Linked DNA regions of Homo sapiens. The protein of the gene in region 1 purifies or fractionates together with the protein of each later gene. This does not show direct contact. Each region holds a gene or a part of one and is shown in the gene's direction. Other genes may lie near its edges. The genes, in order: B3GALT5, SLC30A6, HAPLN3, FAIM, P2RX4, BDH1 and ENTPD7.

Region 1 (4,150 bases):
GGAGTGCAGAATCTGCTGGAGAAACTGCCATTCCGTTATTGACTGGCTGGTCAGGCCATACAGCCTGGTGGTCTAGATGTGTTTGGAGGTAGGGCTTCTGTAGCACAGATAGTGCCTGTTCATGGCTCTGTCCCAGGTAAGGCAGAGCTAGCTTGTGCTGAGGGCTTCTGCTTTGCAGCTGGCCTGGGGTGGCTAGGATCTGGGGACACAGGCTGCCCTTTCCAGGCTCTGTCTGCTGGTGCTGCAGGTGCCCCTACCTCCTCCTTCAGTGGAAGGCTGGCCCCCAGGTCCTCTTTAGGCCCAATACAGACTCAGCCAAAGATGCAGATGTCTCATATATGAGGATTCTGAGCTGTGACTTCTGGTGGTAACTCCACTTTAGGCAGGAAAAATGTTCAACTGCCCATGAAAACAAATGACCCCGGGTCATTTGGGTTTGGCACCTGCTCTGCCAGTTGGGTTTGGCACCTGCTCTGCCTCCTGGGAAACAGTTTGGCCAATGCACTGCATGAGGTGAGCGCCCATCCCTGGGAATTTAGAGCCCTGTGAAGGGTCCTGAGGAGAGGCACATCAGAGAGAATGAGAATTTAAGGTTTACTGTTAAAGCAACCCATAGAAAAGGAGCAGAATTATTCAAGCAAGGAAACAAAGTAGAAAAATATCTTCTTTCCCTTGCACTTGGTTTTTATGTTTCTCTCTAAAATGTATTGTGGGGGAGAAAGCAGTCCCCCAACCCCCCTAATCAGCTGCATATCTTAGCCATGCAAATAAATAATGAAAGAGAGAAAGAAGGAGAGAAAGAGAAAGAAAAGTAAAGGAAGGAAGGAGAGAAGGAAGGAAAGAAAGAAAAGAAAGAAAGAAACTTTGCAGCATCCTGGAGCACCAGTTCAGACAAGTTCTGGTCTCCTGCTTGCCTTCTGCTGTGATTTCTCTGAAGTTGCTGGGGGCAGGAGCTGGGCAGGAACTCCCCAGGGGTGCCAAGCAGAGCAGGTAGTTGGCTAAGTTTGCCTCCAGGAAAGAAGTCCCTGGAGAGCGAGCTGGTTCTAGAAAGCTCCATTATTATATTCCTATTGCTTTTGGCGAATATATGTAGAACAGAATTTTGACAATGAAATTTTCAGGTGCTCTTTTGGCCATCAAAATAACCAGCTCTTGGCTGGGCACAGTGGCTTGCCCTTGTAATTCCAGTGTTTTGGGAGGCCAAGGCAGGGGACTGCGTGAGCCCAGGAGTTTGAGACTAGCCTGGGCAACATAGTGAAACCCCATCTCTACAAAAAATACAAAGTTAGAAGAGTATGGTGGCATGCGCCTGTGGTCACAGCTACTTGGGAAGCTGTGACCCAAGTCACAGGAGGATCGCTTGAGCCCAGGAGTTCAGGGCTGTAGTGAGCTATGATTGTGCTACTGTGCTCCAGCCTGGGAGACAGAGTGACATCAGGTCTCTGAAATATTAAAATTAAAAAGCCCAAACCAACTCTGCTTTTCACTCTTTCAGTTTCATTTCTTGCTGTCCTCTCTGTCCTCTCACCCAGGGTAACATTTTTAAAGTGCCGCTATTGTGTTAAGAATTGGATTTATTCTCTGTGTTAAATTCTCTCAGCATTAACTACAGACTCTGTTATGTAAATAAGGTAAATTATCAGGATGAGAAGTGAGACTCTAATTTATGAGTTTATCATGTCTCTTTAAAAAGCTGCTAGGTGCTATCCTAACTTATTAGGCTTGAAGGATTCTGGGGGATTGGCATATTGTTACTGTTGTGGACTTTGTTTGCCTTGATCATACCCATTTTACAGATGAGAAAAGTGAGGCTGGGATTGGGGCTCAAATGCGTGCTCAGAGTCACATAAGTAGGTTGGAAGGTGACGCTACAGACACGGTAAATTGTGAAGGCCTGCTGGTAAGGCACGAGTGATTTGAATGACACTCTTTTTTTTTTTTTCCTAGTGATTCCTGTCAGAATCACCATTTTTGGTAAACAAACCAAGCCCAGAACCTGATAATTATGGAGCATTCTACACTGACAGTTCTTTGAGACAAATTTCCTCTTGGCATTTACACTGTGGCTTTAGCTTTCAAACCAGAGGTTCCTCTTACCCAGCAAAAAGTGAGTTATACGCTTTCTTAATGTTATAACGTTACCATGGATGATCCTGAACTTGCCGAGGATAGCAGAGACGGGTGGGCAGAACAGGAAAGAATCAGATCAGAGACTGTAAAAAGTAACTTAAAAAAAAATAATTCTGGCAGAGACAGAATTTGAAGGTACTTGTGCACATCAGAACACTGGACTTGCTTTTTTCTGGGAGCAGGAATGCTGCTTAATTAGATCAGAGAAGAATGCAAGTGGTCCATACATTTAGATCTACAATGCGTGGTTTCCAGACCTGCAGCTTGTTTTGCTGCGCTTCATCATGGAGTCATAGAAGGGCAGAGCTGGAGGACCGAGTGAGGGACCTGGTGCCATATCCCTACAGACAGGCAATTGGAGACTCCCGTAGGTTAAGGGCTGCAGAGCCTGGACCAATGCCCAGAATCTCTGAGCTTTTTATCTTACACCATGAAGTGACAGATGCTGGCAGATGTTAGACCTTTGTGCTTAACTGTTTAACCACACAGCACCCGACTTCTGTATGCAGCGAGGTTCTAGAGTTTCCAAAACACGGGTCTCCTCTCCCACCTCAGCCTCCTAGCATAAAACTAGACACATCCTCATGCTTTTGAGGTCTAATCATTGGATTTTGTTCCTTTCAGATGGCTTTCCCGAAGATGAGATTGATGTATATTTGCCTTCTGGTTCTGGGGGCTCTTTGTTTGTATTTTAGCATGTACAGTCTAAATCCTTTCAAAGAACAGTCCTTTGTTTACAAGAAAGACGGGAACTTCCTTAAGCTCCCAGATACAGACTGCAGGCAGACACCTCCCTTCCTCGTCCTGCTGGTGACCTCATCCCACAAACAGTTGGCTGAGCGCATGGCCATCCGGCAGACGTGGGGGAAAGAGAGGATGGTGAAGGGAAAGCAGCTGAAGACATTCTTCCTCCTGGGGACCACCAGCAGTGCAGCGGAAACGAAAGAGGTGGACCAGGAGAGCCAGCGACACGGGGACATTATCCAGAAGGATTTCCTAGACGTCTATTACAATCTGACCCTGAAGACCATGATGGGCATAGAATGGGTCCATCGCTTTTGTCCTCAGGCGGCGTTTGTGATGAAAACAGACTCAGACATGTTCATCAATGTTGACTATCTGACTGAACTGCTTCTGAAGAAAAACAGAACAACCAGGTTTTTCACTGGCTTCTTGAAACTCAATGAGTTTCCCATCAGGCAGCCATTCAGCAAGTGGTTTGTCAGTAAATCTGAATATCCGTGGGACAGGTACCCACCATTCTGCTCCGGCACCGGCTACGTGTTTTCTGGCGACGTGGCGAGTCAGGTGTACAATGTCTCCAAGAGCGTCCCATACATTAAACTGGAAGACGTGTTTGTGGGGCTCTGCCTCGAAAGGCTGAACATCAGATTGGAGGAGCTCCACTCCCAGCCGACCTTTTTTCCAGGGGGCTTACGCTTCTCCGTATGCCTCTTCAGGAGGATCGTGGCCTGCCACTTCATCAAGCCTCGGACTCTCTTGGACTACTGGCAGGCTCTAGAGAATTCCCGGGGGGAAGATTGTCCGCCTGTCTGAGGGGAGCCCAGAGGCACATCCGGACAAGTTTCAGATAACCCGTGGGGATAGTTTTTGCTAGATTTTGGAAGAGGGGGCGGGACAGAGGATGCTGTTCTTCAGTGCTGAAATCCACGCCAGAATGTCGGTGTTCATGAAGTCACTGATTAGTTCCCACTTGGTGCCCCAGGCAATAATAGGCCCGTCTCTTGGGCACGCACACTCTTCATACTAAGTGTTTGACATACACCTGGATTTTTGCATTTCAGGGGTCAGTATCCTATGACATGATGGGTGTTACCATCCTAATTTTACAGGCAAGGACACAGCAGCTGCGAGAGGTACAGAAACTTGTCCCAAGGCTCACAGCCAGTAGGCATAGGAGCGGGAATGAAAATCGAGCACTGTCAGAATCTGGTGGGCAGCCCCTGACTTGAACCACTCCCACGTGCTGCCTCCCTTAGGAGGGGACACTGATGATGAG
Region 2 (4,150 bases), on another chromosome or scaffold:
TCAGGCTTTGAACCACGATCTTTGATCACCTCTGATAGGGATTTGTGACCATGACTCTGGAAAGCCTAGAGGAAATACAGGATGTCAGCTGTGCTTGGAAAGAACTTAACAGAAAGCTGAGTAGTAATGCAGTGTCTCAGATTACCAGAATGTGCCTCCTGAAAGGAAATGTGCGTGTTTGCTTTGATGTTCCTACAACTAAGTCAGAAAGGTTACAGGCAGAGTGGCATGATTCCGACTGGATATTCTCAGTGCCAGCCAAATTACCTGAAATTGAAGAATATTATGATAGAAACACATCTTCTAATTCCAGACAGAGGAGTGGTTGGTCAAGTGGCCAGTCGGGCCGATCAGGTGGTCGATCTGGCAGCCGGTCAGTTAGACAGAGTCCACAAGGGAGTCGCTCAGGAAGTTGACAAGATGGTAGAAGATGAAGAGGGAATAGAAATCGATCAAGAAGTGGGAGCCACAAACGGAGTTTTGACTATTTGATAGTTAATCTACCAGTATGAGGTTGCCTATTTCTGCCTAATCATGTATATTATGCACCAAAAATTAGGTCATCATAGTTGAGGTATGTGTCTGCTATTTGCAAATAAATTGGTCATATTTTTTTAAAAAGTATTTCACAAGAATGATTGTAAACAGATCTACTTACCAGTTATACCTTTGAATTAAAAAACCTCTTTTTATTGTCTCTTTTTAAAAAAAAATTACTAGTTGAAGTTTTTTGTCTGTCTCAAGCAAATAAACATATTTCAGCTCTTTCTAGTTGACAGATAGTTTGACAAAAAAATGCCTGACGGGGAAATGTCCACATTTTTTTTCATCATACCTCTTCCTACTAATTAACATAATTATTAGTTATTTTTCCACTAAACTTTGAAAGGAAAGAATTCTAAAAACTGGAGTATTTTTCTTTGAAATGTTTCTTTGCAAGTAGTGGCCAATTGTGATAAAATTGTGTCCTGTTGCTCAGTCCTGTTGCTTTAGATAATTAATGTTCAGGAGATTTAATTGTAATATGCCCAGTGAGATATAAATTTAAAATTTAGAATTGTTTTTTCCTTTTAGTAATTATTTTGCCGTAGACACTGCCTCTGCTATAGCTATTGCCTTGATGACATTTGGCACTATGTATCCCATGAGTGTGTACAGTGGGAAAGTCTTACTCCAGGTAAGGTGCTTCTTCCAATGCACGTGCTTAATATTAGCCATGTTCTTCTACCAGATTAAAAAGTTGTATGTGTTGTTCTACAAGATTGTGAAATTTTTATTTTTATTTTTTAATTTTAATTTTTTTTTTTTTTTTTTTAGAGACAGGTCCTTGCTCTGTCACCTAGACTGGAGTACAGTGGTGGGATCTCGGCTCACTGCCGCCTTGACCTCCCAGGCTCAAAGGACCCTCCCACCTCAGTCTCCTGAGTAACAAACTACAGGCACACACCACCACACCCAGCTAATTTTTAAAAATATTTGTAGAGATGGGCTCTCACTATGTTGCCCAGGCTGATCTCAAACTCCTGGGCTCAAATGATCCTCTTGCTGCGGCCTCCCAAAGTGTTGGGACTATACGCGAGAGCCATCGTGCCCAGTCATAATTTTTAATTACAAAAGTTTTTTGGCCAGGAGAGGTGGCTCACGCTTGTAATCCCAGCACTTTGGGAGGCCAAGGCGGGCAGATCACAATGTCAGTAGTTCGAGACCAGCCTGGCCAACATGGTGAAACCCTGTCTCTACTAAAAAAATACAAAAATTAGCTGGGCGTGGTGGCGTGCACCTGTAATCCCAGCTACTCGGGAGACTGAGGCAGGAGAATTGCCTGAACCCGGGAGGCGGAGGTTGCAGTGAGCTGACATTGTACCACTGCATCCAGCCTGGGTGACAGAGCAAGACTCCATCTCAAAAAAACAAAACAACATTTTTTTTAATGCCCTCCCTTTAACAGTACAGATTGTGAAATTTTTAGTTACTGGAAGCCCCTGCTAGAAATGAAGTCAAACAATAATCTCTGACATTCATATAGTCAGAACCTGATGAAAGTCCATTAGCAAGTAAAATAGTCACAAATCTTCCTATATTTATATTGTGACAAAATCACAAATTTAAAGCTATTATTATTTTTCAAGTGAAAAGAATGTTACTTCTTTTTTTTTTTTTTTTTTTTTTGAGACAGAGTCTCTCTCTCTTGACCAGGCTGGAGTGCAGTGGCGCTACACTCAGGTCACTGCAACCTTTGCTTCCTGGGTTCAAGCGATTCTCCTACCTCAGCATCCCGAGTAGCTGGGACTACAGCCATGTGCCACCACGCCTGGCTAATTTTTGTATTTTTAGTAGAGCTGGGGTTTCACTACATTGACCAGGATGGTCTCAAATTCCTGACCTCAGGTGAGCCACCCGCCTTGAACCTCCTAAAGTGCTGGGATTACAGGCGTGAGCCACTGCACCCGGCCTGAAATTTTTTTTAGATATTTATTTTCCCTCAGTAAATGTGCTTTGGCTTTTGTGTAATCTGCTTATGACTATTTTATTATTTCCTGCCACTGAATCAGTGAGACTTTAAAATTTCAAACTTAAAATCTTAAATGACACATTGCTACTTACTGAAATGATAGGAACACCCTGAATATGAATAGAAAGGCAGTTTCCGGCCGGGCGCGGTGGCTCATGCCTGTAATCCCAGCACTTTGGGAGGCCGAGGTGGTTAGATGACGAGGTCAGGAGATCAAGACCATCCTGGCTAACACGGTGAAACCCCATCTCTACTAAAAATGCAAAAAATTAGCCGGGCATGGTGGCGAGTGCCTGTAGTCCCAGCTACTCAGGAGGCTGAGGCAGGGGAGTGGCTTGAACCCGGGAGGCGGAGCTTGCAGTGAGCCAAGATTGCGCCACTGCATTCCAGCCTGGGCGACAGAGCGAGATTCCAAAAAAAAAAAAGGCAGTTTCCCAGGGCCGGATGTGCGTGTAAGCACTGTGGTTCCTTCTGTCTTACCCTATGCCTTTTCCAAGACTTAGGGCAGTAGTTCCATCTCCAGAAAAAATAAAAATAAGATAATAGTTGCATAGTGCTATGCCCTATACAAAATACGACCTTTGTAACCATTTCCCAAAGATTTTTTGTTGGTTGGTTGGTTGTTTAAGTGTTATTTATCTTTTTATCTTATCTTCAAGATAAAAAAACAGGTGTGGGCCAGTTGATGATGTTGTTCCACTAGTGGGGCCAGTTGAAACCTCTCTTCTCTAAATCATGATAGGACAGCTGTCAAAGCAAAGGCTGGCTTAAAATCCTTTTGGGGAGGGGGTTCAGGACCATTGTTGGCAAACTTTTTTCCTTCCCCCATTATTCATATTTTATTGTATTTTTCCCCAGACAACACCACCCCATGTTATTGGTCAGTTGGACAAACTCATCAGAGAGGTAAGATGGAATAGTAAATAAAATCATTTTATTTTATATCAGGGAATTGAAAAGGTGGATACTTTTAATACTTTATTCAACTCTACCTAGAATTTTATTTGAGGGAAGTTCATGTTCTTCACAATAACATACTAGGAGCCATAATATAGTGGCAAACGTGGAAAAATATGAGGAATTGTTCAATTTGGAAATCAAATTCACTTGAAGTGAATGTGGAAGGTAATGGCCTAATGACCACCCTATTATAAATGCTATGATTTTTATTTATTTTATTTAGTTATTTAGTTATTTTTTTTTTGAGACAGTCTTGCTCTGTTGCCAGGCTGTAGTGCAGTGGCGCAATCTCAGCTCACTGCAACCTCCACCTCCCAGGCTCAAGCAATTCTCCTTCCTCGGCCTCCTGAGTAGGTGAGACTACAGGCGCGTGCCACCATGCCCAGCTAACTTTTTCTTTTTTTTTTGAGACAGAGTCTTGCTCTGTCGCCCAGGCTGGAGTGCAATGGTGCCGTCTTGGCTCACTGCAACCTCCGTCTCCCAGGTTCAAGTGATTCTCCTGCCTCAGCCTCCTGAGTAGCCGGGACTACAGATGCAAGCCACCATACCCAGCTAATTTTTGTATTTTTAGTGGAGACAGGGTTTCGCTGTGTTGGCCAGGCTGGTCTTGAACTCCTGACCTTGTGATCCACCCGCCTCGGCCTCCCAAAGTGCTGGGATTACAGGCATGTCCACAGC
Region 3 (4,150 bases), on another chromosome or scaffold:
AGCTATTAAAAAGACAAAGCTGAGGGCTGGGTGCAGTGGCTCATGCCTATAATCCCAGCACTTTGGGAGACTGAGGTGAGTGGATCACTTGAGGTCAGGAGTTCAAGGCCAGCCTGGCCAACATACCGAAACCCTCTACTAAAGATACAAAAAATTGGCCAGGCGCGGTGACTCACACCTGTAATCCCAGCACTTAAGGAGGCCGAGGTGGATGGATCACGAGGTCAAGAGATCAAGACCATTCTGACCAACCTGGTGAAATCCTGTCTCTACTAAAAATACAAAAGTAGCCGGGCGTGGTGGCAGGTGCCTTTAATCCCAGCTTCTCAGGAGGCTGAGGCAGGAGAATTGCTTGAACCTGGGAGGCAGAGGTTGCAGTGAGCTGAGATCATACCACTGCACTCCAGCCTGAACGACAAAGTGAGACTCCGTCTCAAAAAAAAAAAAAAAAACACAAAAAACAAAAAATTAGCCGGGTGTGGTGGCGTGCACCTGTAATCCCAGCTACTCAGGAGGCTGAGGCATGAGAATTGCTTGAACCTGGGAGGAGGAGGTTGCAGTAAGCTGAGATCACACCACTGCACTCCAGCCTGGGTGACAGAGTGAGACTCTGCCTCAAAAACAACAACAACAAACTTGTTCCACTTGTTTGTGGAAGGAACGAACCAGATGGCTGGTCTCAGTAATAGCCAGCACCTGCCATGAAGAGCGCACAGCCTGGTTCAGAGACGACACATGAGCCTGCAAGTGCAGTGCTGGGTGTTTCTCACCTTTCCCTCTGCCTTTGAGTAGATGATTGTGCCTGCAGAGGCATTTTCCCTCTTTTGATTAGTCTCCTAGGTCAGCTGTAACAAATTAACACAAACTTGGTGGCTTGAAACAACAGAAATGTATTCTCTCACTGCTTTAGGCACCAGAAATCCAAAATTAGTTTCACTGTGCAGAAATCGAGGTGCGGATAGGACTGTACCTCCTGTGGCTCTTGGGGAGAATCTGTTCTTGCCTTGCCTCTTCCGGTTCTGGTGGCTGCTGGCATTCCTTGGCTGTAGCTGCCTCACTGCAGGCTCTGCCTCCTTGGTCACGTGGTCTTCTCCTCTTTTATATGCAAATCTCCCTCTGCCTCCCTCTAAACAGGTACTTGCGCATTTGCATTTAGGGCCCACCTGGGAAATTCAGGATACCCTCCCCATCTCGACATCCTTAGTTTAACCTCATCTGCAAAGTCCATTTTGCTACATAATTAGGATTTAGGGTATTTTGGGAGGCCATTATTTAGCCCACCACACCCTTTTCCTTCAGAATTTATTTTGTTATACAAGCCCTACTTTATTTATTTATTTATTTATTGAGACAGAGTCTCGCTCTGTCACCTGGGCTGGAGTGCAGTGGCGCGATCTCGGCTCACTGCAAGCTCTGCCTCCTGGGTTCACGCCATTCTCCTGCCTCAGCCTCCCGAGTAGCTGGGACTACAGGCATCCGACACCATGCCTGGCTAATTTTTTGTATTTTTAGTGGAGATGGGGTTTCACCGTGTTAGCCAGGATGGTCTCGATCTCCTGACCGCCTGATCCGCCCGCCTTGGCCTCCCAAAGTGCTGGGATTACAGGCGTGAGCCACCGTGCCCGGCCTACAAGCACTACTTTAATGAGATTTGCGGAATTTAAAAAACTTAAACTTCCTACTCATAGTTTCACTACACTACCAGGCCAACATTTCATTTTTGTCTTTCCCTTTTGTCCCTGAATATGTAAGCAAAGTCATATATAATCCCCCCACCCAGGGGAACCACTGTTAACTTTTTAGGTATCTCTTTCTAGCCTTTTCTTTTTTTTTTTTTTGAGACAGGGTCTCACTCTGTCACACCAGTGCAGTGGTGTGATCTCGGCTCACTGCAACTTCTGCCTCCTGGGCTCAAGAGATCCTTCCACTTTAGCCTCCTGAGTTAGCTGAGACTACAGGCGTGCACCACTGTGCCCAGCTAATTTTTGTATTTTTAGTAGAGATGGGGCTTCACCGTGTTGGCCACGCTAGTCTCGAACTCGTGGCCTCAAGTGATCTGCCCGCCTTGGCCTCCCAAAGTGCTAGGATTACAGGCGTGAGCCACTGCACCTAGCTGAGCCATTCTTTTATGATTTAGAAAACTTTCTCCAACAAAAACCAGCTCATGTCATACATGTGATTTTTGTATTCTCCCTTATCACCTCATAGAATAGAACTCGTTTTCTAAGTCAATGATTGAATGTACATCTACCAGATTATTTTACATGGCTGTATAGTATTTTATCATATGGATGTACATTTTCATTTTATTCAGGTTAAAGCTTCAAAGGTAGTTTACTTAAGAGAGTTGGGAAGAACCAAGGAAGTGGCCCCTAAATGATAGCCCTGCTTCATATTTATTGGACACTTTCTGTGTGCCAGGCATCCTGCCTTACCTGATTTGAACCTTACCACAGCCCTCTGTAGGGACTGTAATTAACCCATTCTACAAATGGGGAAGCTGAGTCTTGACTTCCCTGGATTACACAGCTGGGAAAAGGTGGAACCAAGGGCAAGCCCGAATTGCCTGACTCCAAACCTCTGTACCTACTGCCTCTGCAGAGCAGGACAGCTCTAATCTGAATGAGCCTGAAAGTCCCCTGGAGGCTGGACCCCATTCCCAGAGTCTCTGAGGCACTGGGACCCCACAATGTGCATTTCTGACAAATTCCTGGTGATGCTAATGCTGCTGGCCCGAGGGCCACACTTGGAGACTTCTGCATATGGCAATCTGCTACATTAGGTATAGCTCTTTTTTAGCACGATTCCTCTACAGGGAACCTCCCTGTCTGTCTCCTGCTTACCCATGAGGCTGTCCCCTTGCCTCCACCTTTTTAATTAATTAATTTGTTTTTATTTTGTTTTTGGCAACAGAGTCTTGCTCTCTCACCCAGTTTGGAATGCAGTGGTGCGATCATGACTCACTGCAGCCTTGACTTCTGGGCTGAAACAATACTCCCACCTCAGCCTCCCGAGTAGCTGGGACCACAAGCATCTACCACCATACTCAGCTAGTTTTAAAAATTTTTTTGTAGAGACAGGGTCTCACTTTATTGCCCAGGCTGGTCTCAAACTCCTGGGCTGAAGCGATCCTCCTGTCCTGGCCTCTCAAAGTGTTGGGATTATAAGCGTGAACCACCGTGCCTGGCCCCTGTCCCCACCTTGAGTAAATCAAGCATGTCTTGAAGTCTAGACCCAAGAGAATGAATCAGTGAGGTCCCAACAGGGGCTCCCAAGTTAAAGATGAGGCAGCCTTAGCCTATGAACTTGATTCTTTTGTTGCATGTTGAGTTCTGTGTGTATTTGTAACTCTGAGCCGTGAGCGTAGTCTCCTTTAGAAGTTCTGCCCTTAGCTCAGTAGGCTGCTCCGTATTTGGGAAGAGTTATGGTGGACAGCTGGACCAGAGAGTAAAGCCAGGGCTGTGCTGTCCTCTGGCCAGTGTGGTGGGGAAGGAAACTCCGACGGATCCCTATCAGGGCCACTTGTCCTGGCCATGTACCTCATGTGGGGTGGCTCTTGTTGCCTGCTCCATTGGTTAGATTTTATGCATAGCAAACCACCCAAAACTTAGTGACTTCTTTAGGATGACAGCCATTTGTTTAGCTCATGATTCTGTGGGTCAGCATTTTGGAGTGGGCTCCATTTCTTCAGGTCTTGCGGTTGGGTCTTGCAGATGTGCCTGCCCATGGTGGGCAGGTCAGCTGGGGGCTGGTTGCTGTAGGATGGCCTCAGCTGGGGCGCCCTGTCTCTGTTCTGTGTATTCTCTCATCCTCTAGCAGGCAAGCCTGGCCATGTGCTCATGGTGGCTGGCAAAGTCCTAAAAAAAGAGTGGAAGCAGCAAGGCCCCCTGGGACCTATGCTCAGAGCAGGCATGATGGATAACAGTCACTTCCAAGGCATTCAGTTGGTCAAGCAAGTGGCAAGGCCAGCACAGATTCAAGGGGGTGGGGGAATAACTGTCATCTCTTGATGGAAGGAGATGCAAAGTCACATTGCAGAGCATGTGGATACAGGGAGGGGTGGAGCATGGTGGCCATTTTTGCAATCTGAGCCTGTAGGAGCCGTGGATGAGGGTGTGCGGTGGCCCTTGCAGGGGTACAGATGTGCTTC
Region 4 (4,150 bases), on another chromosome or scaffold:
AAAGCTTTGAATAACAAAACATTATGATTTACTAAGGTCATATTATGTGCCAGATACTATACTAGGCACTTTATATAATTATTTCTAACCCTTATAACAGCCTATGGGAAAGGTGGTATCATCTTCATTTGCCCCTGAGGAAATGGAAGCTCAGAGTGGTGGTGACTTGCCAAAGGGTACTGCTAGTAAAGAGTGATGCTGAGAGCTGACCTCAAAGATCATGTGCATTTTTTTTCACCACCTAAAAAATGTGAGGCATATAAGGGCAATGAAAACAGGGTTGGTTAGCATTCTCAGCTCTTGTAGTCTCCACACCACTGAATACCATGGGAGGAAAATAAAGCTGGCAGGAGGAAAGTACATATGAAACTTCACGCTGGAAGGAAATTCTCTTTCTGTTCTGAAAAGTTTCTCTTTGATAGCATTTACAGAACATAACCTGCTCAGGACTCACCTGGGAAGTCCCTAGCTATTGTTCATGCGGCTGAGGGAATCCGCAGGCAAAGAGGAGATGCTCCAAGATGAACATGCAGCAGCAACTCCCATGAGTCACTAAATCCAGCACTGAGTCATAATAGATTTGAAATTTTATCAGCTAGATATGTCCTTTTATTAACATACCACTTTGAATAGGTTACATACTCAAGATTCAGAAATCAAAATGCTATTAAAAGACACATTAAAAAGTCTTGCTTCCATCCCTGTTCCCATCTGCCATGTTCCCCCATCAAGATAACCATTTTTAGTGTCACTCTAGTGTTTCTTTATTCAGATTCAAGCGAGTACACATATTCTCTCTTACCACATAAAAGCATCTTGCTTTATTCACTTATTATATTCCGAAGATCCTTTTATATCAGAACCTAAAGAACTTTTTCATATTTTTTATAGCTGCAGAGTAAATTTCAATAGTAAATGGTGTATTTAGCTCATTCCCAACTGATGAACACTTGAGCTGTTTCTAATCTTTTGCTGTTAGAAGCAATGCTGCATGAATAGCTTTGTTTGCATGCCTCTTGGAACAGGACACATATTATATTAGTACACATTTCTGGAAGTAGGAAAGTAGGACTTCTATTCTTCTGGGTCAAAGACTAATTGTATTTGTCATCTTAATAGATTTTGCCCATTTGCCTTCCATGGTACTTTTACCATTTTGTACCCCCGTTAGCTATTTTCCCCAGGTTCTCCAGCAGAACATGTAGCCAAACTTTTGGATTTTTTGGCATTCTGCTAGGTGAAGCAATGGTATTTCAGGGTTGTTTTTGTCTTTTTCATAAGTGAGGTTGAGCATCTTAGTTTTAAGTTTCTTTTGTATTTCCTTTCTCATGATGCCTGTTCATGCCCTTTGCCCCATTTTCTTTTGGTTGTTGGTCTTTTTCTCCTTGATTTCTCATAGTCTTCACATTAGTAAGTTTAGTCCTTTGTTCATGCTGTGAGTTTGACATATTTTTTTCAGAGTTTGTCATTTATTACATGACTTTGCTAATGTGTGTGCATTTTTCTTCAATTGTGCTGTGGCTTTTTTACTTTTTTTTTTTTTTCCCAAGACAGGATCTCACTCTGTCGCCCAGGCTGGAGTGCAGTGGTGCAATTTTGGCTCACTGCAACCTCTGCCTCCTGGGTTCAAGCAATTCTCCTGCCTCAGCCTCCTGAGTAGCTGGGATTACAGGCGCCCGCCACTACGTCCAGCTAATTTTTTGTATTTTTAGTAGAGACGGGGTTTCACCATGTTGGCCAGACTGGTCTTGAACTCCTGACCTTGTGATTTGCCTGCCTCAGCTTCCCAAAGTGCTGGGATTACAGGCATGAGCCACCGTGCCTGGCCTTTTTTTGTACTTTTATGTAGTCAAATTTAATACATTTTCTTTTAGGGCTTCTGGATTAGTAGTGTTCTTCAGAGGCATGCTAATACGCTATTGTAGAAACTCTGAGTACACGTACATGTTCAGTAAGCATAGCAAGTAAAATACCAGTTTCTACCATCATCGTGGTTTATCATAGCACTGTGTGCACTGATCATGTCTTGGGACAAGTTGAGTTTACCTGCACCTGTGACTATAGCAGCTTTCTATGAAGGCTGCCACTGAGGTGACCCCTGCCCATATCTCCTGGACCCCTCTGGCTTTCTCTTTTTCCATCTAGCGCACCTCAAAGGCTTTTCTCCCATCTCTAAGTGAGGCTCCCATCTCAAGGTATGGGGAGAGAAAGAACCCCCTTTAGACTGTGCTCCTGGAGCAGATGGCCAGGCAGTAAGACCCTGGACTGGTGCCTCAAACCTGACCCCCAGACTCCTTGTGCACATACAGGCCATACTTCCTTCTCTTCTTCACTGTAATACCCAAAGCTCAACTTCTGGCTTCTTGATTAGTGTAGTCTTCTCTCCTGCTACTCCTGAGGACACTAACATTTGCAAGGGGCTCTGGGGACTCCTCCACCCTGAGATGAGCTATGGCAAGTTAACTGATCCATTTAAGTGTGTCGGGGCAGCATTTTGTTCCATATTGTTCCTTAGTGTGCAGTCCACCAGCTATACCTATTTTTTACTTGTAATCCAATAATTTTTCTCTAAACTGAAACCATTATGAAAAGGAATAGACATTATTGTACTACCTAGTAAGAAGCTGGACTAGATTTCTAAAGCGGACATGCTGTCTATCCTATATAAATCCCGTGGCAGCTGCTTTCAGTGGTCTTTTGTGCCATCACCCAGTTGGGTGAGTGTGGGAGGCAGGGGAGTCATCTGGTCAATATTGAAGGGCATTTTGTATGGAAGGGTCCCTCCTCACATTCATCTGTATGCATCCTTCTTTTTTATTTATTTATTTATTTATTTATTTATTTATTTTTGAGATGGAGTCTTTCTCTGTTGCCCAGGCTAGAGTGCAGTGGTGCGGTCTCGGCTCACTGCAAGCTCCACCTCCCAGGTTCACGCCATTCTCCTGCCTCAGCCTCCCAAGTAGCTGGGACTACAGGCACCCACCACCATGCCCGGCTAATTATTGTATTTTTAGTAGAGATGGGGTTTCACCGTATTAGCCAGGATGGTCTCGATCTCCTGACCTTGTGATCCGCCTGCCTCAGTCTCCCAAAGTGCTGGGATTACAGGCGTGAGCCACCGCGCCCGGCCTGTATGCATCCTTCTTTAAAGATTGTCCTTTTGGATTCATTTTGTTTCATAAGGCTTCATCAATTTGTATTAAGACCATAACTTTCTCTTAAAAGGTTGTTTTGTTTCATTATAGTTTTATGAACAAAGAACAAACACAGCTTCTTCAAATTTTAGGAGAGTCTGCAAGCCATGAAAGCCATGAAAAAGTGTTGGGTTTTGGAATATTAATGGAGTTTTAGAGATCTGGTATATCAATCCTTTCCTAAAGTAATAAATAGGAAAAGTTAACTTTATCTTTAAATCACAGAATTATAACTTAAAGTTTTTATGTTACCTTTACAGAAAAAGATGCTATGGACGTATGGTGCAATGGTAAAAAATTGGAGACAGCGGTAAGTTGACTATTTGATGACTCTAAGTGCCATGTGTCTCAGTTACCATTGAATTGTTGCTGCATTTCCTAATTATAGAGATCTTATAATGAATCAAGGCCCTCTTGATAAAAACAAAAAAGGGATTAAGTACTCCTGACTTCAGATTCTGAAAACCTTTGCCAGATGGTGCCTGGTACCGTGAGTTTGGAAACAACTCATGTTCTTAGCTGGCACTAGCTTCATACTCTCCCTTTCCTGTCCTGGACCAGGCTCCAGCATAGCAAGTAAAATACCTAAAAAGAGCCCCTAGTTAAAAAATTATATCCCCAGAGGTTGGTGTCCTCTTGTGTTGATCCATTTGAAGTGGTGCGTTATCACTGCTTCTCAAACTTGCATGCACAGAAATTGCCTGGAATCTTGTTAAAATGCTAATTCTAACATTTCCCTAGGTGCTGCTAATGCTACTGGTCCACAGATCACACTTTAGGAATGCTTTACACCATACACTCAAAGCAGATGGTTCTTTTCTGAAAGCGAGATTTTTGTAAAATGAGTGATACAATATCAGATGACACGAAGGTAGACGAACAGGAAAGGGCACTCTCACGAACCCCGGAGGACAAGTGGAATTTTAGACCAGCAGTGCCAATGCGAGGAGAAAGAG
Region 5 (4,150 bases), on another chromosome or scaffold:
GTTACGGTACAGGAAATGACAAAAACTTGAACACCCCTGTTGTAAGCCATCCCTCTTGAGGGAGTGGGGACTTTGAAGACCTGAGAGAAGTCCAGGCACAGTGGCCCATGCCTGTAATCCCAGCACTTTGGGAGACCGAGGTGGGTGGATCATCTGAGGTCAGGAGTTTGAGACCAGCCTGACCAACATGGTGAAACCCCATCTCTACTAAAAATATGAAAAAATTAGCCAGGCGTGGTGGTGCACGCCTGTAACCCCAGCTACTCGGGAGGCTGAGGCAGGAGAATCACTTGAACCCAGAGGTTGCAGTGAGCCGAGATCGCGGCATTGCACTCCAGCCTGAGCAACAGGAGCAAGACTCCATCTCAAAAAAAAAAAAAACCTGAGAGAAGCCCCTTGGTCCCAGCCTTTCTCTGACAGCAGTGGTGACAGGCTCAGCTCTCCTCCGAGTGCAGCCCTGTCACTGACCTTGCTCCTGTCTCAGGGCTGGGAAGACTGTTGATGTTGTCATTCCAAAGATCCCACCTGGATCAGGGGAACATCCCCCACAGAAGGGTTAGCCATACAGTGCCAGATTCTCCAGGAGAAATTCACCAAAGAAATGGAGTCCCCTTGGGGACAGATTCAACTTGTATTGTCAGCCAGGAGCTGACGTGGCACTTCTGAGAAGAGGCCGGCGCACCTGCTGGCGGGTGCTTTGTGCACTTTTCAGACAGGTCAGGATCCAGCCTGTAGGCAAATTTACTTTTGCTTTGACCTGTAAAACCGGATCTGCCCAGCCTTCATTCTCTCCCTGGAGAACGCCTGCGGCCCCAAAGCCAGGCCTACTGATTTCCAGTGAGGCCACAAATCCCCTCCCTGGTTAGCAATTCAGTTTTCACCGCCTTGGGGGAGAGGGCCTGCCCTTCCTTGAGGGGAAGAACCTGGAAGGCTCGGCTCAGTGTCTTCTCTTGGAAGAGAAGAGTGTGCATGCAGAAGGGTGTAGAAAATGCTAGACGTGTTTCATCTTCTTGACAAAATGACATTGTAAGATGTGTGTATATGTTTTTAAAAATATTACATAGGGGCTGAACATGGTGGCCCACTCCTGTAGTCCAGCACAGGGAGGCGGAGGTAGGAAGATTGCTTGAGGTCAGGAGTTCAAGACCAGCCTGGGCAATGTAGGAAGACTTCATGTCTACAAAAAAAAAAAAAAAAAATTTCATTAGCCAGGCATGGTGATGCATGCCTATAGTTCCAGCTACTTGAGAGGCTGAGGTGGGAGAACCCCCTGAGCCTGGGAGGTCGAGGCTACAAGAAGCTGTGTTCATGCAACTGTACTCCAGCCTGGGCAACAGAGCAAGACCCTGTCTCAAAAATATATATAGGCTGGGCGTGATGGCTTATGCCTGTAATCCCAGCACTTTGGGAGGCTGAAGCAGGCGGATCACTTGAGGCCAGGAGTTGGAGACCAGCCTGACCAACATGGTGGAACCCTGTCTCTACTAAAAATACAAAAAAAGTTAACCAGGCATAGTGGCTCACACCTGTGTAATCCCAGCTACACGGGAGGCTGAGGTGGCAGTGAGCTGAGATCGCGCCATTGCACTCAAGCCTGCACTCGAGGTGACAGAGTGACTCCATCTCAAAAAAAAAAAAAAAAAAATATATATATATATATATATACACACACACACACACAGACACACACACACAATACATATATATATGTGTGTATATATATATATATAACATGGTTATGTGAGTATTTGTATGTATTTTATTAACAGTAATGTTATCATTGTTTTTCAGACCTGCTTTTTTAAAGGCTGCAGAAAACTTCACTCTTTTGGTTAAGAACAACATCTGGTATCCCAAATTTAATTTCAGCAAGTAAGTGGTGGCCAGGTGTGTGAGTTCACCAGGGTCTTGGAGAAACTTCTGGCTCTTCTCTCTTCTCTGAGGTTTTCGTCGCTCTGATTTTCTGCTTCCTCTCGACTTTAGGAGGAATATCCTTCCCAACATCACCACTACTTACCTCAAGTCGTGCATTTATGATGCTAAAACAGATCCCTTCTGCCCCATATTCCGTCTTGGCAAAATAGTGGAGAACGCAGGACACAGTTTCCAGGACATGGCCGTGGAGGTGGGTGCGGGCCCTGGCTCTCCTGACCCAGCCCTGGAGGCGTCTCGTGCCAGGTGCTGAGGAAAGCCTTGCCGTGTCTCTGCTGCTCATCCCCAGGGAGGCATCATGGGCATCCAGGTCAACTGGGACTGCAACCTGGACAGAGCCGCCTCCCTCTGCTTGCCCAGGTACTCCTTCCGCCGCCTCGATACACGGGACGTTGAGCACAACGTATCTCCTGGCTACAATTTCAGGTGGGCGTGAGCTTGGGCCCCTCGCTCATGTTGTAGGGGGTGCTGGTGGCTGCGTACGTGCCAGTGGGCCGCCCACTGAAGACCAGCACTCAGGCAGCACCCCAAGGGCAGGCTGCCGGTCCCCCGTCCAAGGCGGCGGGAAGGCCATGCTGGGAAAATGCCCTTAGTGGTGTCCTGCTCCGGGGCCATCCCGGCCCCCGAGACCCCTCCTTGCCCTTTCCTGCCGCAAGAAACATGTTGAGATGGTTCTTAGAGCAGCCAGGAGAAGCTGGGGGCTTAAGCTTTCCAGCACCTGCCTCAGCCATGACCTCCATTCACTGCCTCAAGGAGCGGATGATCTTGTGATCCTCCAGTCCAAAGGCCTCTGGGGCCTGGCCCAGGAATTGGTTTCTCAAAGGTTGAACCTGTGCCAGAATCTCCAGAGTGCAGGGGACACAGGTCTGAGGCCCCTGAAAGGCCTTGCTGGGTTCCCTGCTGCAAATGCTGGCATCTCGGTGTCCTGGGGCAGATGTAAGCGAGTCCCACAAACAGTGGCTTGCAACTACAGGACTTGATTCTCTCACAGTTCTCACAGTTCTAGAGGCCACAACCTAAAATCCAGGCATCAGCAGGGCTGTGCTCGCTCTGAAGGCTCTGGAGAGAGTCCTTACTTGTCTCTCCTGGCTTCTGGTAGCCCACGGTGTTCCTTGGCTTGTGGATGCATCACTCCAGTCTCTGCCTCTCCTGTCATGAGGCCTTCTGCCTTGTATGTGTCTCTGTGTCTTTTCTTCTTGTAAGGATATCAGTCACTGAATTTAGGGCCCACCCTACTCTAGTATGACCTCATCTTAACAAATTACGTCTGCCAATATCCCATTTCCAAATAAGGTCACACTCCCAAGCTTCAGGTAGATGTGAATTTTTGGGGACACACTGTTCAACCCACTACAGCTGATGATCTCATGATCAGAATCTATAGCCAGGTAAATTTCCACGTACCCTTTGTTGCATTTTTCACAGTCCTTAAAAAGGAAGCGCTCCAGGCCGGGCGCAGTGACTCACACCTGTAATCCTAGCACTTTGGGAGGCCAAGGCGGGCAGATCACCTGAGGCCAGCATGGCGAAACCCCATCTCTACTAAAAAAAATACAAAAATTAGCTGGGCATGGTGGCGCATGCCTGTAATCCCAGCAACTTGGGAGGCTGAGGCAGGAGAATCGCTTGAGCCAGGGAGGCAGAGGTTGCAGTGAGCCGAGATCGCACTGCTGCACTCCAGCCTGGGCGACAAAGCAAGTCTCCGTCTCAGGGGGAAAAAAAAGAGGCCCTGCAAGGACCATCCCTGGGCGCGGTCAGCGGTGCTTTGGGCTGCACTTGCCTCCCCCTAGTGGTGACGTGTGGAATCCGATCCATACGGGATCCTAAGACCTCTGTAATTGTGGGATCTGCTGTCCTTTTGAACCTTCTGGCTCACTGAGTAAAGCAGATATTTGAATTTTTCTTTTCTAGCAGTTAGATTTGTGTTATTCCATCTCTACTGTCACACACTTCTTGTGGAAACCTCAAGCTTAGGTCAGAGCCCTAAAACGGAAAGAACTCAGGACGCCTATCCCCCAACCTCGGGCAGCACCAGGCCCTGCCTGTGTCTCCCAGGCCTGGCCCATGGCGTGGAAGTTGTGGGCCAGATAGAGCATGGAGCTAGGGTGCGGGCCGAGGCTCCTGATGGATCCCTGGAGAACATGGGGCAGCAGATGGTATGTCTTGACGGTTCTTCACCAACCATCCATCCCCTGCTCATGCGTGTGCGCTCTCTCGC
Region 6 (4,150 bases), on another chromosome or scaffold:
GGGAATGACAGCCTGAGCTCCAGGCCCATCTGTCCCGTGCATCTCATGCCTGCGTCTTGTTTGGGAAGGTCGGCGCACCTAGGGGATTTCAGAGCCAAACTTTAGACCATCGAGCCTCCGGCCTGGCTGCTGTGTCCGAAGGCATCCCTGGTGCCTCTGCAGAGACTTAGCGGGCCACGCCACAGTGCCTTTTCAAAGGGCCACTGGGGAGGCTTCCTTTCCATGGAAAACCAGGCGGTGAAGACGACAGTCCAGGAACGGAAGCGGTGTTAGGTAGGGGAGATCAGCCCGACCTCCTGTCCAATGCCGGGATTGTCTCTGTACCACCTTTCCCACACCCCATCCTCAAGCATCCCCCCAACCCCCAAACATCCCTCCTACCTCCAAACAACCCCCCACCCCAACTCATTGCCTCAACACCTCCAGGCAGCTCATGCCATCTCCAGACTGTGAAGATCACGCCTCATTTTGAGCTGAGCTGGACTTCTTGGTCCTGGCTCTGTTCTCTGTGGCTGCATGGAACAAGCTGGCTCCCTCAGTCATGTTCCACTCAAGTCTTCTCTCCGGGGTGACTACGTCCAGCACCTCCGGCCCCATTGGGCAGTCCCTTCACCATTTCCTCCTGTGCCCTCTGAAATTGCATGATGTGATTTCTCCATTCCCGGGGTTGGGGTTCTTCTGGTTGAAAGCATTCAGAAGGCTCAGCCTAACCAGCGGAGGACTTTCCACCCCTGACAAGTGCTGACCGTCCTGGGCTTTCCACCCTTGCCCGCGCCTGGGATGTTTGCTTCAGTAGCAGCTGTGTGTGCCATGGGCAAGCCCTTGGCTGGCGAGTGGGCATTTCTCTACCCCTTTACTCTTGGCTGCTAGTCCTGTCCTCTTACAAGAGGTGTCACTATGCCATGCACCATTCAGGAAAATTGCTGCCAATTAAGTCATTTATGACCAACTATGTTTAATTTTCACATCGAGTGTAGCTCATCCCTATTGTGAAAGAAACCATGTTTCATAGAATAGGATGAAATGTGACAATGCAGCCTGCCTGGTGACACGAGGGTGCACGTGACAAAGCACATCAGCACTTAGCACAGTGCTCAGGACAGTGGACACTCGGGAAATGCTGTCTACTTAGAGGAAAGCCCCCCAGCAGCTCGGCAGTGCCCACAAGCAGACCCCTGCCCTCCTCTCCAGCCCTGCATCCACCACCTCCTTATGCGTCTGCACTGCCTGCAACCAATGGCTTCTGGTGGCGTCCTCTTATCTCTTCCCACAGTGCCCCGTCCCCATCGGCCCCCTCTTGTGAATGTCCTCAGCTGTCACTGCCTTTGGAAGGTCTCCCCTGCCCGTCCCTCCTGTGCCCCTCCCACCTCCCGCCAGGTTCCATACAGCACACAGTCACTGTGTCGCTTACGTGCTCACCTGTCTCCTTCCCTAGAACACGACTCTGGGAACAGGGGCTGAATGATTGATCTTGACCTCCAGTTCCTAGCACAGTGCCGGAACACGATAGGGGCCCAAGAAATGTTTGCCGAGCGAGTGACGCCTTTCTCCTGTTTAGCAGTACCTGAATTTGTGTGGTGCTTTAGACTCTTTAACAGGCTTCTTACAAATCCATTTCCTTACTCCATTAATCTGAGCAGGTCAGGACAGGTGGTGATGTTCCTGTTTTACAGCCAGAAAAAATGGACCCCTGTTCAGGGACACCCCTGAGTGCACAAAGCCTACTCAGTGACTGAGCTGGGATTAGAGGCTGGCTCTGGCCTCTTACCAATTTGGAGTTGATGGGCCCTTGGCTTAGAACAGAGGTGGCAAACTGGCAGCCTGCTGGTCCTATGTGGCCTGTGGACGTGCTTTGGCCTTCACAGTGTTTTTTTGTTTTTTTTTTTAAATGTGTGTAAGTTGCCAACACTTAAAAGAATGAAGAGATTTCCCAATTACTAGCTTAAAAATGTAAGCATCTGGCAACCCTGGGTTTCCATCCCCACGTGGTAATTCCTGACATGTCCTGTACTCCCCAGGGCCCCCGCCTGCCCCACATAAGTTTGCAACCCCTGCTTGGAGAAGGAATCCTGTCTTGAGGCCTTGGGGGCCGGCTCTTCATCCTATTCATGGTTGTGTCTGTGGCACATAGCTTGATGCTTGATAGGTCATCAGTGCTCAGGATTAAAAAGAACCGCATGCTGGTGGGCCAGGCCCATGGGCAGTTGCCAGTATGCCTGAGGCTTTGGCTGGGACTTGAGGCCAGCTCCTGCCTTGACAGGAGTCCTCAGGGTCTGCCTCAGGGTGGGAAGGAAGGAGGTAGAAGCAGCTCTTCTCTCCTCCCCAGGACAAAGGCCATGATGGGGTCAAGGAGCTGGACAGCCTAAACAGTGACCGATTGAGAACCGTCCAGCTCAATGTCTGCAGCAGCGAAGAGGTGGAGAAAGTGGTGGAGATTGTCCGCTCGAGCCTGAAGGACCCTGAGAAAGGTAGGGCGCCCCTTCGGACGGCAGGGGTTGTGTATGGGGCCATTCCAAGGGGCACTTGCCGAACACCACCTTCCACTGGCTGGCATCCTGCCACCACACTCCCTTCCTTATTGTTTAGGCTCTTCCTCCTGCACAGTAGGAGGAAGAGGATTACACTAAACATACACGTGCAATAGGGCAATGGAAAAATACAGTCAGGAGGTGATTTCAGAGTTCACGGAGTGCTAGGTGGCTACGCACTGATTCAGGTCAGTTCAGCCAATGCCCATTGATGCCCCCTCTGGCCCAGGAGCTGGGTTGGGTGCCAGGGACACAAAGATGGTCAAGGCACATTCTGTCCCCAGGACCTCATAGTTCAGCCGGAGGACTGAGTTCAAAATCAGGGAGCCGTGCATTGAGAGAGGCAGAGCAGCACAGGAAGGAGGGGTCAGTCCAGCCATGGGGGCGCAGTGGAAATAGGCCAGTTAAGGCAGATTGTGGCAGAGAGCAGATATGGTTGTTCCAAGAGGAGGGGAGAGCAGGAACCACAGCTTCGAGGAGCACGGGGAGGGTAGCGGGGGCTGTTGGTCAAGTGGTGGGATTAGCCGGCACCTCAATATGAGTCATGGGTCAGGTCACGCAGAGGGGGTGGCAGCAAAGGAGGTTGGGGAGGGAGGTCTTGGATCCCAGGCGAGGGAACATGGCTGGTCTCCCAATGGCACTGGGGAGCCACTGAAGGGGTCATCCTGAGGGAATGGCCTGGTCATTGTGAGACTTGTGAATCTCCCTCTGAGGATGGCAGTGGCAATGTGAAGGTGGATTCAAAGCGGGAGTTAAACATGGGTTCTGGACTCCGGAACTAGGGTGGTAGGTGTTGGGAAACAGGAAGGGTCAGGTGCGAGGAGTGTTGAGAAGGCGAAGCTGCCTGGACTTGGTGACTTGGATGTGGGGATGAGGTGAGGCGCGAAGTCTCTGTCCTGGACACCTGGTGCCCCGCACTGCAGGAGCAGGTGGGGAGATAGGGAGACACTGAAGCGCCCACCCTGAGGGAATGTCCAGGCTAGAAGAGCAGGTGCCCACGGCAGGTGACACTGGGAGTCGGGGAGATGCACAGAGGGACCCCTGGGAATGTGAGTGTTCGGGGATCAGAGGAGGGGGAGAGGCAGCTGTCAGAGAGGTTGGATACAGTTCCCCAGAGGCTAAACAACAGAAAGTTTGGAGGAGAGGGCAGTACCAGTAGCCAACAGGGTCAAAAGCTACAGAAAGTTCCAGTAGCATAAGGACTAAAATATCCTTCCAGTTCAGCCAGTGGAGGGCCTTGTGGGAGGAGCTCTGTCTGCAACCTCGGGGTGCCATTCATGTAGAATACAGCAGTGGGGGATGGAGCTCCCTGGAGCCGGGCCGCCCAGCAGCATCTGGAGAAGCGAATCTATGAAGTTTACCTTTGAGCTCCCTGACAGCCCAGGCAGAAAGGGTGTGCGTCATTCAGGCCTCTGCTTTCCCTCAGAATGGGGTGGGGCAGCTCTCAGGAGCAGCTACTTCAGTGGCTGGGGAAGGAGGCGGAAAAGGCAGGAGTGACCAGATCCCATGCGGGGAGCTCTGCTGAGCCTGTATCAGCCAGATGGATGTGCTGTCTGTCACAGCAGCTGCCTCAGAGGCTGCGTGTGTGGCTGTCGGTGATGCCGCTCCTCTGCCTGTCTCTG
Region 7 (4,150 bases), on another chromosome or scaffold:
AACATTGCTTGGGTTGAGGTGCTCAGATGTCTCCTGCAGGCACCATGATGTTTGAAGATCATTTGTTTTGAAAGTTTCACACCAGTTTTGGTTTTCCTTCTTCATTAGCTGCTGTGCTTCCTTTTCCATTTTCTTCTTTTGTTCTACTCCTTTCTTTTCTGTCTGCTGTTTTCTGCTGCCTCCAAACTACTTCTTGCCAGACTGCATCTTCTTCCCATGCGTTGGTATTTTCTTGCCAAGTAGCTAAGTCACCTACATCAGGTGACTGATGAGTAAAAGGCATATCTTGTGTAGCTGCCAGTCTATTAACCTATTTCCTGAGATGGCAAAATGATCATTGTCTCTTCTCAATAACAATTTTCTGAGTTTTCCTTACAGTTGGTGTCACATCCTTAAAATAGTCGGTTCCAGTTGTTGTAAAGTGTTCTGTTGTACTGCCTCATTCCATTCTCACCCTCGGTCTTTACACCTGTGGGCGCATCCTCATTCTAAGAAGTCCACTCTTCAACATCTGTCTGTTTAGGAACTGATGAATAATTAACTGCAATTGGCAAAGTTACTTGGACCCCAACTTAATTTCTGTCCTTGGACAGATCTTCATACTCATCATTTTGAGGAATGAGAATATGGTTGCTAGGCAAGTATAAACTCAAAATAACTGGACCTGTGTTACGGCCATGGTGGGAATCAAAGCTTTCCAGTCTTCTCCCCACTCAGAGGCTCCAGGCTCTGCAGGTGGCTTCCTGGAGCTGGTGCTGTGCCTGTTCTGTTCCAGCACTGCTCATTCAGAGGCAGGCATGGGCTCCATCACCATTGCCAGCCATTGCACATGGGCCACTGCCGTGGTCTGCTCTTCAGGAATCTCTCCCCACAGTCCTTCCCACCTCACCCCCTACCAGTTGTATTTTTAAACATTAGAACCACACTCCGCACGATAAGGTCCTTGCACTTTTAGGAGGTACGTGGGAATGAAGACCAGATGGAGAACAGCAGATTCACATCTCCAATTTCACTACAGACTAGGAAATACACATGTTGACTAAAATGTCGAACAGAATTGATCACCATATTCCTCTCTTTTTTTTCTAAATTTAACTTGCTGAAGTTAAATGTTTATGTGATGAAATTGCACTCCATCCTCGTTTCTAGAGATATCATGAAAACCAGTAGTAAGATATTTCTGATGCACATTGTGTTTCTTAGACTAGGTTGAATACAGGCATGACGTGTTTGTTTGTTTGTTTGTTTTTGTCATTGTGGCAGATTGCTTGGTCAGAAGACAGGTCTGAGTCCCGACAATCCATTTCTGGATCCCTGCCTGCCAGTGGGACTCACAGATGTGGTGGAGAGGAACAGCCAAGTCTTACATGTCCGAGGAAGAGGAGACTGGGTGTCTTGTGGGGCAATGCTGAGCCCCCTGCTGGCTCGCTCCAACACCAGCCAGGCCTCACTCAATGGCATATATCAATCGCCTATTGACTTCAACAACAGCGAGTTCTACGGCTTCTCTGAGTTTTTTTATTGTACAGAGGATGTGTTGCGCATTGGTGGCCGCTACCATGGGCCAACATTTGCCAAGGCTGCTCAGGTAAATTATTAATGATAAACATGGCTTATGCTGGCAGCAGCCATTTATTGAATGCCTCACTCTGTGCCAGGTGCTGTGCAAAGGGCTTTGCATACAGAATCTCACTTGTTCTTTGCAGGAGCCCTTTGAACACTCATTTTACAGATGAGGAAGTGGACAGAGAACTTAAGGATCTAGCTATGCTGTACTGCCTTCTAATTAACTAAATTTATTTTCCATGGATGTCATACCACCCAAATTATTACCCAGGCATAAAATTTTTGTGTTGGCTAATGGTTTTTCTTCCAACTTTCCAATAGTCTTGTTTAATGTTTATGCCCAAGAAATGTCACCTCCAGTATTTTTCCTCTTGCTAGCTATTTTCTGTTGTAATGTGCTTTTGGAGATGATATCACCCAGAGGGGCAAGCCCATCTTTCTTTTGGGTTGAGGTATTAAGAGGCAGAGTGGTATGGGGTCCCTGGGAATATTAGATGTTGTAAAAAGCAATGATGGTGGAAGTTTGTTTAGATTTAAAATAGAGGAGTAAAAATTCACTCTGAGCATATATAGGACTTAAGCATCATATAAGTTTAAATCATTGGTACCTGGACAGATGAAAGTTTAGCCAGCTTTCTATCATTTTCTGCTTTATTTAGGGCCATCTCTTTGAATTGTTGCGTGTCTCTATCTTTTTCATCAGAGAAACGAATGGGAGAATCTGTCCTCATATTTCTTTTTTTCTTGAGATGGGGTCTCGCTCTGTAGCCCAGGCTGGAGTGCATTGGCATGATCTCAGCTCACTGCAACCTCTGCCTTCCGGGTTCAAGTGATTCTCCTGCCTCAGCCTCCCGAGTAGCTGGGATTACAGATGCCCACCACCATGCCTGGCTAATTTTTATTATTTTTAATAGAGATGGGGTTTTGCCATGTTGGCCAGGCTGGTTTGGAACTCCTGGCCTCAGGTGATCTGCCCGCCTTGGCCCCCCAAAGTGCTGAGATTACAGGCGTGAGTCACCGTACCCAGCCTCTCCTCATATTTCCCTCCCTCCCTCCCTTCCCTCCTTCTTCCCTGCCTACCTTTCTCTTTCTTTCTTACAATTCTCTAGGGTTCTCTTAGTGTAAGGCTTCCAGCAAAATAATATCTGCAGTATCTGTACTGTTCTGTTCCCAAAAGACAGTCCTTAAGAAATACTGTGGGACACCTGGTTTGTATTTGCTCCTTTCTCTCCAGCCTCCAGGACGACCTTCACGCTCCCTGTTTTTCTGGAGCCCAGAGCTCCCTAACTATCCATGGCCTGACTCTTTCTCTTATCTCAAAACTTCTTCAAATTCTATTCCCTTGAACACCAAAAGGCTCAAGTTATTGGGCTTAACATATTATCTTTTCCAGGTAAAAGCGATTTTTTTCCCTTACCTTTTTAACTTTGACTCAAACGTTATCTTCCCAGAGCCACCTTCTGGGACCACTCTATCCAAAATGACAACGCTCCCCATATTACCTGTTGCCCTTTCCTGCTTTATTTTTCCCTGAGCATTTATGTTATCCAACGTACCGTGTGTGTGTGTGTGTGTGTATGTGTGTGTGTGTGTGTGTGTGTGTGTGTGTTTATTGTCTGTCTCCTACCACTAGAATGTAAGCTTCCTGAGGACAGGAATTTTTGTCTGTTTTATTTACTGCATGATTCCCTGGCATCTAGAACAGCACCTGGCACATAGCAGACATACAAACCAAAAGGAATGATTATTTTGGTGAGAATTACAACACCGAGGGAGGCCAATGACAGGTTTCTAACCATCCTCTTCCATCTGCTCTCCCTGCTCATGTCAGTCCTATGTGGAGTAGAATGAAACTATCTTTGTCTTTTGACGTTGCTATTTGTTAGTCCTAACCTCAGCCCCTCTGAAGCCTAAGAGGCTCAGAAGCCACATCAAGCTGGCTTGGTGCTAGACATGGGATGACGGGAATAAACAGGGGTATGACGCAGTGTTTAGTGAATGAACACACCATTTCTGTTTTCCTTTGTCAGCTGGTAGCCCACAAGTAACTTTAGAAATGGAACAGCTGTGACTGTGGGGAAGGTAGAGAGTTTGCCTCCAAATTCATGTTGCACTATTTCTCTGTGGTTGATCCAGGATTACTGTGGCATGGCTTGGTCGGTACTAACTCAGAGATTCAAGAATGGCCTCTTTTCATCACATGCAGATGAGCATCGACTCAAGTAAGTTACTTCCCTTTCCTCCTTAGATGTGGACTTAAAATCTAGATGGCAGATTATAATGGAGAGTGAGCAATAATGCAGATTAGATTTCATGTTGAGGGAGCATTTGATTATTCCAGACTTGATTTTCTCAGGGATAGGGGCCAAAATAGTGAGCCTATTATAGCAAAGCCAGAAGAAATCAGTGGTTACCAAACAGAGTTCTCAACAAGTGATTTGACAACAAAAGTGATTTTTTTTTTTTTTTGAGACAGAGTCTCACTTTGTTGCCCAGGCTGGAGTGCAGTGGCATGATCTTAGCTCACTGCAACCTCCGCCTCCTGGGTTCCAGCGATTCTCCTGCCTCAGCCCCCCAAGTAGCT

Evidence for each region.
Region 2: the proteins of B3GALT5 (region 1) and SLC30A6 purify together in Homo sapiens (affinity purification with mass spectrometry; one large-scale study listed by BioGRID and IntAct). This does not show direct contact.
Region 3: the proteins of B3GALT5 (region 1) and HAPLN3 purify together in Homo sapiens (affinity purification with mass spectrometry; one large-scale study listed by BioGRID and IntAct). This does not show direct contact.
Region 4: the proteins of B3GALT5 (region 1) and FAIM purify together in Homo sapiens (affinity purification with mass spectrometry; one large-scale study listed by BioGRID and IntAct). This does not show direct contact.
Region 5: the proteins of B3GALT5 (region 1) and P2RX4 purify together in Homo sapiens (affinity purification with mass spectrometry; one large-scale study listed by BioGRID and IntAct). This does not show direct contact.
Region 6: the proteins of B3GALT5 (region 1) and BDH1 purify together in Homo sapiens (affinity purification with mass spectrometry; one large-scale study listed by BioGRID and IntAct). This does not show direct contact.
Region 7: the proteins of B3GALT5 (region 1) and ENTPD7 purify together in Homo sapiens (affinity purification with mass spectrometry; one large-scale study listed by BioGRID and IntAct). This does not show direct contact.

Annotation. Positions count from the first base shown.
Region 1 is NC_000021.9:39,657,806-39,661,955, forward strand, and holds part of B3GALT5 (beta-1,3-galactosyltransferase 5), read left to right. Parts: exon of another isoform or gene 1-76; coding exon of another isoform or gene 77-88; intron 89-1,947; 5' UTR 1,948-2,107; intron 2,108-2,754; coding exon 2,755-3,687; 3' UTR 3,688-4,150. UniProt on the Homo sapiens protein: Catalyzes the transfer of Gal to GlcNAc-based acceptors with a preference for the core3 O-linked glycan GlcNAc(beta1,3)GalNAc structure. Can use glycolipid LC3Cer as an efficient acceptor.
Region 2 is NC_000002.12:32,203,516-32,207,665, forward strand, and holds part of SLC30A6 (zinc transporter 6), read left to right. Parts: exon of another isoform or gene 1-703; intron 704-1,074; coding exon 1,075-1,177; intron 1,178-3,370; coding exon 3,371-3,418; intron 3,419-4,150. UniProt on the Homo sapiens protein: Has probably no intrinsic transporter activity but together with SLC30A5 forms a functional zinc ion:proton antiporter heterodimer, mediating zinc entry into the lumen of organelles along the secretory pathway.
Region 3 is NC_000015.10:88,881,761-88,885,910, reverse strand, and holds part of HAPLN3 (hyaluronan and proteoglycan link protein 3 isoform 2 precursor), read left to right. Parts: intron 1-4,150. UniProt on the Homo sapiens protein: May function in hyaluronic acid binding.
Region 4 is NC_000003.12:138,625,653-138,629,802, forward strand, and holds part of FAIM (fas apoptotic inhibitory molecule 1), read left to right. Parts: intron 1-3,454; coding exon 3,455-3,504; intron 3,505-4,150. UniProt on the Homo sapiens protein: Plays a role as an inducible effector molecule that mediates Fas resistance produced by surface Ig engagement in B cells.
Region 5 is NC_000012.12:121,226,742-121,230,891, forward strand, and holds part of P2RX4 (P2X purinoceptor 4), read left to right. Parts: intron 1-1,791; coding exon 1,792-1,872; coding exon of another isoform or gene 1,873-1,876; exon of another isoform or gene 1,877-1,887; intron 1,888-1,983; coding exon 1,984-2,125; intron 2,126-2,221; coding exon 2,222-2,358; intron 2,359-4,150. UniProt on the Homo sapiens protein: ATP-gated nonselective transmembrane cation channel permeable to potassium, sodium and calcium. CTP, but not GTP or UTP, functions as a weak affinity agonist for P2RX4.
Region 6 is NC_000003.12:197,520,958-197,525,107, reverse strand, and holds part of BDH1 (D-beta-hydroxybutyrate dehydrogenase, mitochondrial precursor), read left to right. Parts: intron 1-2,326; coding exon 2,327-2,468; intron 2,469-4,150.
Region 7 is NC_000010.11:99,697,271-99,701,420, forward strand, and holds part of ENTPD7 (ectonucleoside triphosphate diphosphohydrolase 7), read left to right. Parts: intron 1-1,263; coding exon 1,264-1,588; intron 1,589-3,702; coding exon 3,703-3,788; intron 3,789-4,150. UniProt on the Homo sapiens protein: Catalyzes the hydrolysis of nucleoside triphosphates and diphosphates in a calcium- or magnesium-dependent manner. Preferentially hydrolyzes nucleoside 5'-triphosphates, with substrate preference for UTP > GTP > CTP.